Linked DNA regions of Homo sapiens: region 2 is linked to region 1. The links come from fine-mapping of genetic effects on gene expression. Tissue or cell type: nasal epithelium. Region 1 holds a variant in brackets; the other region holds the start of a gene. All regions are shown on one strand. Distances are between the middles of the regions.

Region 1 (4,000 bases):
GTAGCTCCCATAATCCCCATGTGTTGTGGGAGGTACCTGGTAGGAGGTAATTTAATCATGGGGGCAGGCCTTTCCCGTGCTGTTCTGGTGATAGTGAATAAGTCTCACAAGATCTGATGGTTTTATAAAAGGAGTTCCCCTGCATAAGCTCTCTTGCCTGCTACCATGTAAGATGTGACTTTGCTCCTCATTTGCTTTCAGCCATGATTGTAAGGCCTCCCCCAGCCATGTGGAACTGTGAGTCAATTAAATCTCTTTCCTTTATAAATTACCCAGTCTCAGGTATGTCTTTATTAGCAGCATGCAAACAGGCTAATATACTTGGAGAGGTAAAGAGGGCACACAGTACCAAAGTCCTTTTGACCTGAAGAGATTTACAAATTCCTGCAAACTTAGACTTTGAATTTGGTGGACTAATGAAGAGTTATGGCCCTGAGTCTACCCAGGTAGTGAGAATATAGATGGTGTGCCCCACCATACACCAGAACCCCTGAGGGCTCTACCCTTACGATAAAGATTAATCAGAGGTAAATCCATACACACTCACACATATCCCCAAGGAATACAACAAAGTCGTCTTGTTAAGTGAGTAGGAAAAGAAAAAGAGAGAAAAAAACCTGTCTGAGAGGTTATGGCCATTGGAAGGCCCCTGTGAGATTTGCAGCCCTGATTTGCATTGTCTGGGATTACAGGTGCCCACCACCACACCCAGCTAATTTTTGTATTTTTAGTAGAGATGAGGTTTCACCATGTTGGCCAGGCTGGTGTCCACCTCCTGACCTTAGGTGATCTGCCCGCCTCAGCCTCCCAAAGTGTTGGGATTGCAGGCATGAGCCACTGCTCCCAGCCATTCATGATTTTTTAAACAAACATTTATTAAAGCATGAATAGAATGTAACTTCTTGATTAAGAGTATCTAGGGGGGAAAGAAGCTATAGCAAATATCCAATCATATTTTCTAATAACACACCAAAAGCTTTTGCTATGTCATCTACCACTGCCTCTATTCATCATTGTATTGGAGGGCTGAATTAGTCTAGACAGGCAAGAACAATATATTAAAAGTGTGAGATTGGAGAGGAAGGAGCCCAGCTATTCCTGTAACAGATTATCTAATTGTGGAGATAGACAACCTCAGGCTCGTGTAGCTGAAGCAGAGTAAGCATTGCAGAAAGTCATAGGAGATAAGGTCAGAGAGGGACTGGAATTCATACCACGGTGGCCCTTGGAGGGCATTGCAAGGATTTTGACTCTTACTGAGAGAGAGGTTGAAGCCATGGAGAGTTTTGATGAGGAGAGTGGATGAAGTGACTTAACATTTTGAAAGTGTTACTTTGGATGCTTTTTTGAGAACAGACTGAAGGGAGCTATGGGCAGAATCACAGAGACCAATTCGGAGGCACAAGAGAGATGACAGTGGCTTGTACAGGGTGATAGTGGTGACAGAGGTGAGAAGTGGATGGAGTCTACATATATCATGAGGCTAGAGTCAATAGGATTTCTGATGGATTCGATGCAGGGTATGAGAGAGAGGAATTAAGAATGACATTGAGGGGAGGAGCCAAGATGGCCGAATAGGAACAGCTCCGGTCTACAGCTCCCAGCGTGAGCGACACAGAAGACGGGTGATTTCTGCATTTCCATCTGAGGTACCGGGTTCATCTCACTAGGGAGTGCCAGACAGTGGGCGCAGGCCAGTTGGTGCGCGCACCGTGC[G/A]CGAGCCGAAGTAGGGCGAGGCATTGCCTCACCTGGGAAGCGCAAGGGGTCAGGGAGTTCCCTTTCCGAGTCAAAGAAAGGGGTGACGGACGCACCTGGAAAATCGGGTCACTCCCACCCGAATATTGCGCTTTTCAGACCGGCTTAAAAAATGGCGCACCACGAGACTATATCCCACACCTGGCTCGGAGGGTCCTACGCCCACGGAATCTCGCTGATGGCTAGCACAGCAGTCTGAGATCAAACTGCAAGGCAGCAGCGAGGCTGGGGGAGGGGCGCCCACCATTGCCCAGGCTTGCTTAGGTAAACAAAGCAGCCGGGAAGCTCGAACTGGGTGGAGCCCACCACAGCTCAAGGAGGTCTGCCTGCCTCTGTAGGCTCCACCTCTGGGGGCAGGGCACAGACAAACAAAAAGACAGCAGTAACCTCTGCAGACTTAAATGTCCCTGTCTGACAGCTTTGAAGAGAGCAGTGGTTCTCCCAGCACGCAGCTGGAGATCTGAGAACCGGCAGACTGCCTCCTCAAGTGGGTCCCTGACCCCTGACCCCCGAGCAGCCTAACTGGGAGGCACCCCCCAGCAGGGGCACACTGACACCTCACACGGCAGGGTATTCCAACAGACCTGCAGCTGAGGGTCCTGTCTGTTAGAAGGAAAACTAACAAACAGAAAGGACATCCACACCAAAAACCCATCTGTACATCACCATCATCAAAGACCAAAAGTAGATAAAACCACAAAGATGGGGAAAAAACAGAACAGAAAAACTGGAAACTCTAAAACGCAGAGCATCTCTCCTCCTCCAAAGGAACGCAGTTCCTCACCAGCAACGGAACAAAGCTGGATGGAGAATGACTTTGACGAGCTGAGAGAAGGCTTCAGACGATCAAATTACTCTGAGCTACGGGAGGACATTCAAACCAAAGGCAAAGAAGTTGACAACTTTGAAAAAAATTTAGAAGAATGTATAACTAGAATAACCAATACAGAGAAGTGCTTAAAGGAGCTGATGGAGCTGAAAACCAAGGCTCGAGAACTACGTGAAGAATGCAGAAGCCTCAGGAGCTGATGCGATCAACTGGAAGAAAGGGTATCAGCAATGGAAGATGAAATGAATGAAATGAAGCGAGAAGGGAAGTTTAGAGAAAAAAGAATAAAAAGAAATGAGCAAAGCCTCCAAGAAATATGGGACTATGTGAAAAGACCAAATCTACGTCTGATTGGTGTACCTGAAAGTGATGGGGAGAATGGAACCAAGTTGGAAAACACTCTGCAGGATATTATCCAGGAGAACTTCCCCAATCTAGCAAGGCAGGCCAACATTCAGATTCAGGAAATACAGAGAATGCCACAAAGATACTCCTCGAGAAGAGCAACCCTAAGACACATAATTGTCAGATTCACCAAAGTTGAAATGAAGGAAAAAATGTTAAGGGCAGCCAGAGAGAAAGGTCGGGTTACCCTCAAAGGGAAGCCCATCAGACTAACAGCGGATCTCTCAGCAGAAACCCTACAAGCCAGAAGAGAGTGGGGGCCAATATTCAACATTCTTAAAGAAAAGAATTTTCAACCCAGAATTTCATATCCAGCCAAACTAAGTTTCATAAGTGAAGGAGAAATAAAATACTTTACAGACAAGCAAATGCTGAGAGATTTTGTCATCACCAGGCCTGCCCTACAAGAGCTCCTGAAGGAAGCGCTAAACATGGAAAGGAACAACCGGTACCAGCCGCTGCAAAATCATGCCAAAATGTAAAGACCATCGAGACTAGGAAGAAACTGCATCAACTAATGAGCAAAATCACCAGCTAACATCATAATAACAGGATCAAATTCACACATAACAATATTAACTTTAAATGTAAATGGACTAAATTCTCCAATTAAAAGACACAGACTGGCAAATTGGATAAAGAGTCAAGACCCATCAGTGTGCTGTATTCAGGAAACCCATCTCACGTGCAGAGACACACATAGGCTCAAAATAAAAAGATGGAGGAAGATCTACCAAGCAAATGGAAAACAAAAAAAGGCAAGGGTTGCAATCCTAGTCTCTGATAAAACAGACTTTAAACCAACAAGGATCAAAAGAGACAAAGAAGGCCATTACATAATGGTAAAGGGATCAATTCAACAAGAAGAGCTAATTATCCTAAATATATATGCACCCAATACAGGAGCACCCAGATTCATAAAGCAAGTCCTGAGTGACCTACAAAGAGACTTAGACTCCCACACATTAATAATGGGAGACTTTAACACCCCACCGTCAACATTAGACAGAT
Region 2 (4,000 bases), 86 kb before region 1:
AAATTGAGTTAAATATTTACATTAAATATTGCAAGGGGTTATTTTACCATTTCACAAGCAAAACACTAAATTTCCCGTAGAAAATGTTTAACAACATGCCCAGATAATTTATAGAAGAAAAAAATGTCAAACAAGCATATTTATAAGTGTTCAGTTGAACCAATATTGAAAAAAGTAAAACAAGATTTTTTAATGTATCAAATTATTTCAGATTATATCTAATTTTCACTGCTGGGTTTCTGGAAAGCAATTTGTCAACATACATTCAAGAGTCTTAAACATGTTCATATCCTAAGGAAATATTTTTAAATGTAGGAAAATAATTTTGTTCAGGATTATTCATTACCACATTTCTCAAAAAGGAAAACACTGGAAATAGAAAAATATTTTATGTTTAAGTAAATTAGGTACCGTTATTTTTAGATCTACAACTGCGAAGACTTAAATAAAACACTTGAGTTACACGAGAAAATGGTCAGACTAACAATGACTGAAAGAAGGACATATAAATGCAGAAGAAACAGACTCGAGAAATGTCAAAATGTCCACAGTGGTTATATCTGGTTGTTGATTTATGCGTAATTGATTTCTCTATACTTGTTTTCATTTTTCACACATAATAAGCCCTGTTATAGCCAGCAAAAAATTACAAAAAAAGTCAAAGTCATCCTTCTTTCAATCAGCCCATTGCCTTGCCCCCTATCCTCCTGACTAGACGGAAGCCCAGTGCATAATTTGTTTTTCAGGCAGAAGAACCCCTTTCATTCCACTGTTACAGATGAATCACCTACTGTGGGAGTAGTCTTGGTACTCACATCAAAGTGTAATTCATCAGTGACTGTGATTGAAAACAGATCCTTTACTCTTTCGTAAGTTAGGAAACAAAATGTGGGGGCAAATGAGGAAAAGAAAACTAAGAGGTTGCTGGGGAGAAAGAAGGCAAATGTCACCTGCTTCATCATTCTTTTTAGAGCTCTCAATGTGTACCTTCAGTATTGCTCAGACTTTTTTTTAATGTGTAGCAGTGTTGCTATGGTAACTGAAAGCTACATCTTCTTCCATAAAAGCTTTATTGCCTTCCCTAGTGGGAAACAGGCAACAAAAAAAGAGAGCTCCAAGTTTCTGGGAACTGAGTCTTTATAAGGAAATATATTTTGTTGTGTTTTGCACACTGTTTCAGGTTCTTCTTTAGGTCAAGGTCACCAGAAAGGGTGAGAGAAATATATTTCTGATGCGGGCTCTTCCAGGAATAGATTAAACCCAGATACCAGACATATTTCAGGATATGAGGGTAAAGCAGGTTTTACATGGCCATGTGAAGGGACTTCTGAAGGACAACCTGAGTATAAAACACGTTTTATTATCATGATTATCAAAAAGTATGTGTCAGCCTCTGTGACCATTCATGACTAGTCAGGGCGCTGGGTAAGACAGAAAGGTTCAAGCTCAGCTCACTCGGTACTCAGTCAAAGGCAGCCTTAGTGAGCACATACAACCACATCAAGGACAGTCACACAACATGAATACGGAGGACAAACTGGCATGCCATTTGGTCTCACTGTTTCCATGCGTCCACAGCTCATTTCTAACTTTGTGCTTTGTGTATTTGCTTGTCTTGTTTACCTGTCAATAAGGCCTTCTCTATTTTTTTTAAGTCCCAGTCTTCCTTAAAGACCCAGTTATGAAGCTCCTCCCCTTTGAGAGATTGCCTCCTTTTAAACCTTATTATATGCAGTTAGCATGAGCTTTTAGCATTTATGTTTTTCCCCAGGCATTCAATGATCGTATGATCATTGAAGTGTTTTATAGATAATCATATGTAGGTTTCTGATCCTTCCTAGATAAATGCTATATTAAAGATGGAAGGTTTGGAGAACCTCCACCTCTCATCGGTTTTTAAAGAAAATGGCCTGTGGTGCTCTGAAAGAGGCAGTTAGTTGGAAATTCCAACTGCCTGTCCTTTAGATTTTCTAAGCATGCTTCTGTACTTGGTAGCTGCTGATTGGCTGTTACCAAAGGTGACTAGAGTGCTAAGCCAGTCAACAGGGAAAACTTGGCTCCTGACTTTGGGTCTTTCTTCTCAGTCTATATGGAAGAAAACTGAGAAAAAATATAAAAAAGAAGAACACAACTAGTTGCGCATCTCCTAAAGAGGTAATTACAGTAAAAAATATTAAAATAAGGACCCTGCTGGAGTATGAATTTATAATGTGATCACTATTCCATAATAATGGAGTAACTATAAATGAACCAACTGGGGGAGGAAATAGCTTCCTTCAATGGGGCAATTCCCAATGTTTATTTAGTGCCAGAGAAGAGAAAATGCCCAGATACATGACTTGTATCCAGTAATTATGTAAAACTTATAATAATTACAAAGGAATGATAACTGGGGGTAATTTAACTGCTAAGTAGGTCAGTAGGGGAGTGTGATGAGGAAAAAGAAGTTGCTGCAGTGTATGGAGATATGGAATTCAGAAGTAATACTTGTCAAGTGCTTATTCTGTATAGAATATGTTAGATGTTTTAAGGTATTTTTCATTTAATTCTCACAACAACACTGTGAAGTGCCTGTTATCCCCATTTTACTGAATAGAATATGAACTCCAAGAAGTTAAATAGCTTGCTAAAAATCAAATATTTCGATGGACAGACTTCGTCTTAGGCTAAAGTCTATGTTTTTACTCTAACTATGAGCTGAAAGTTGAAAGAAGATAGTATCAAATAAGGAAAAGTTGTAATATTGAAGGGAAAATAAGAAGAATGAGACTGGAACTATGCCCCAAAGAATTAAAGAAACCAGTAGGTAGCAGAAATTCTTGAGCTTGCAGGATGGCAGATAAGAAAGCTTGCAGAACAAGCTTGCTGACATTAAAACCAGAATTTCCACCACGTGCTTCATACTAACTCTCTCGAGTTTGCACAGGTGACCCATGAAGAGGCATAAAGATTCTAATAATGGTGTTGTATCATTTAATTTGAATGTTTAGCAAAGTGATATAAGATTTTTCTGGTAAAGGGACTATTTTCAGAGTTTAACTGTGATAATGTCTCCACTTAATGTTAAATTCGTTCTTACACCAAAAATATACTTGAGCATTGCACCATGCCGACAGAATTTTAATCTACCATTTGTTTCCTCTTACCTTGTGAAAACAAGTTGTTTTCTCAGATGATTTTTAAAAATGCACTAAAAACCTTCAGTTCTCCCCTGTTAATGTGATAAGAATGAATTCAAAAAAATCAAACTGTTTGAGCTTTCTATTGTCAATTAAATGTATTTAATAAGCAAGTCAGTTTTGATGAAGGAAAAACACCAGTTACATTTAATTTACTCAGCAGTTGTCAGGAACTGCACAAAGTTCTGAGATTTTATTCCACTTAGAGTTGGCAAATTAGTATGTTTCTGTTTTCTTGGATGCTGGCAAAAGACACAAGACTCCTAGGTCAGAGACGAAGGACTTTATTACTAATAGCAAAAGCAGTAGCCAGAGTGTCCACAGGTTGCTCACTCCAGTACCTCCTGTCCCCCAAGTTCCTTAGAGGTGAAATTCATCATGGATGCTGTGTTAGTTTTCTAGGGCTGCCATAACAAAGGCCCATACACTGGGTGGCTTAAACAACAGAAATTTATTTTCTCACAGTTCTGGAGGCTAGAAATCTGAGATCAAGGTGTCTGTAGGGTTAATTCCTTCTGAGGGCCATGAGGAAGGAACTGTTCATGCGTCTCTCCTGAGTTTATAGGTGGCTGGCTGTCTTCTTCCTGTGTCTTCCCTTCATCTTCCCTCTGAATGTCTTCCCTCTGTGTCTTCACTTCACCCTGCCTATGTCCAAATTTCCTCTTCTCTGAGGACACCAGTCCTATTGGATGAGGGCCCACCCTAATGACTTCATTTTCACTTCATCACCTGTTTAAAAATCCTATCTCCAAACATGATTGCCTTCTGAGGTAAGGGTGGTTAGGATTTCAACTTCAGAATTTTGAGGGTAGAAAATTGAG

Evidence for each region. PIP is the estimated chance that this variant, and not a neighbour inherited with it, causes the effect.
Region 2: it holds the start of CATSPERB, and the variant in region 1 is the best candidate, but not a certain one, in a credible set for the expression of CATSPERB in nasal epithelium (TOPMed, PIP 0.52).

Annotation. Positions count from the first base shown.
Region 1 is chr14:91,643,786-91,647,785 of GRCh38, reverse strand. The region is part of intron 15 of CATSPERB (catsper channel auxiliary subunit beta); the gene reads left to right. Among named protein-coding and RNA genes, the nearest start is that of CATSPERB, 86 kb to the left of the region's middle. RefSeq lists enhancers at 1,239-1,831, 1,832-2,426. The variant G/A (reference allele first, on the strand shown) is at 1,717.
Region 2 is chr14:91,730,084-91,734,083 of GRCh38, reverse strand. CATSPERB (catsper channel auxiliary subunit beta) reads left to right here and starts at 1,998. Exons shown (of 27, transcript NM_024764.4): 1 at 1,998-2,154.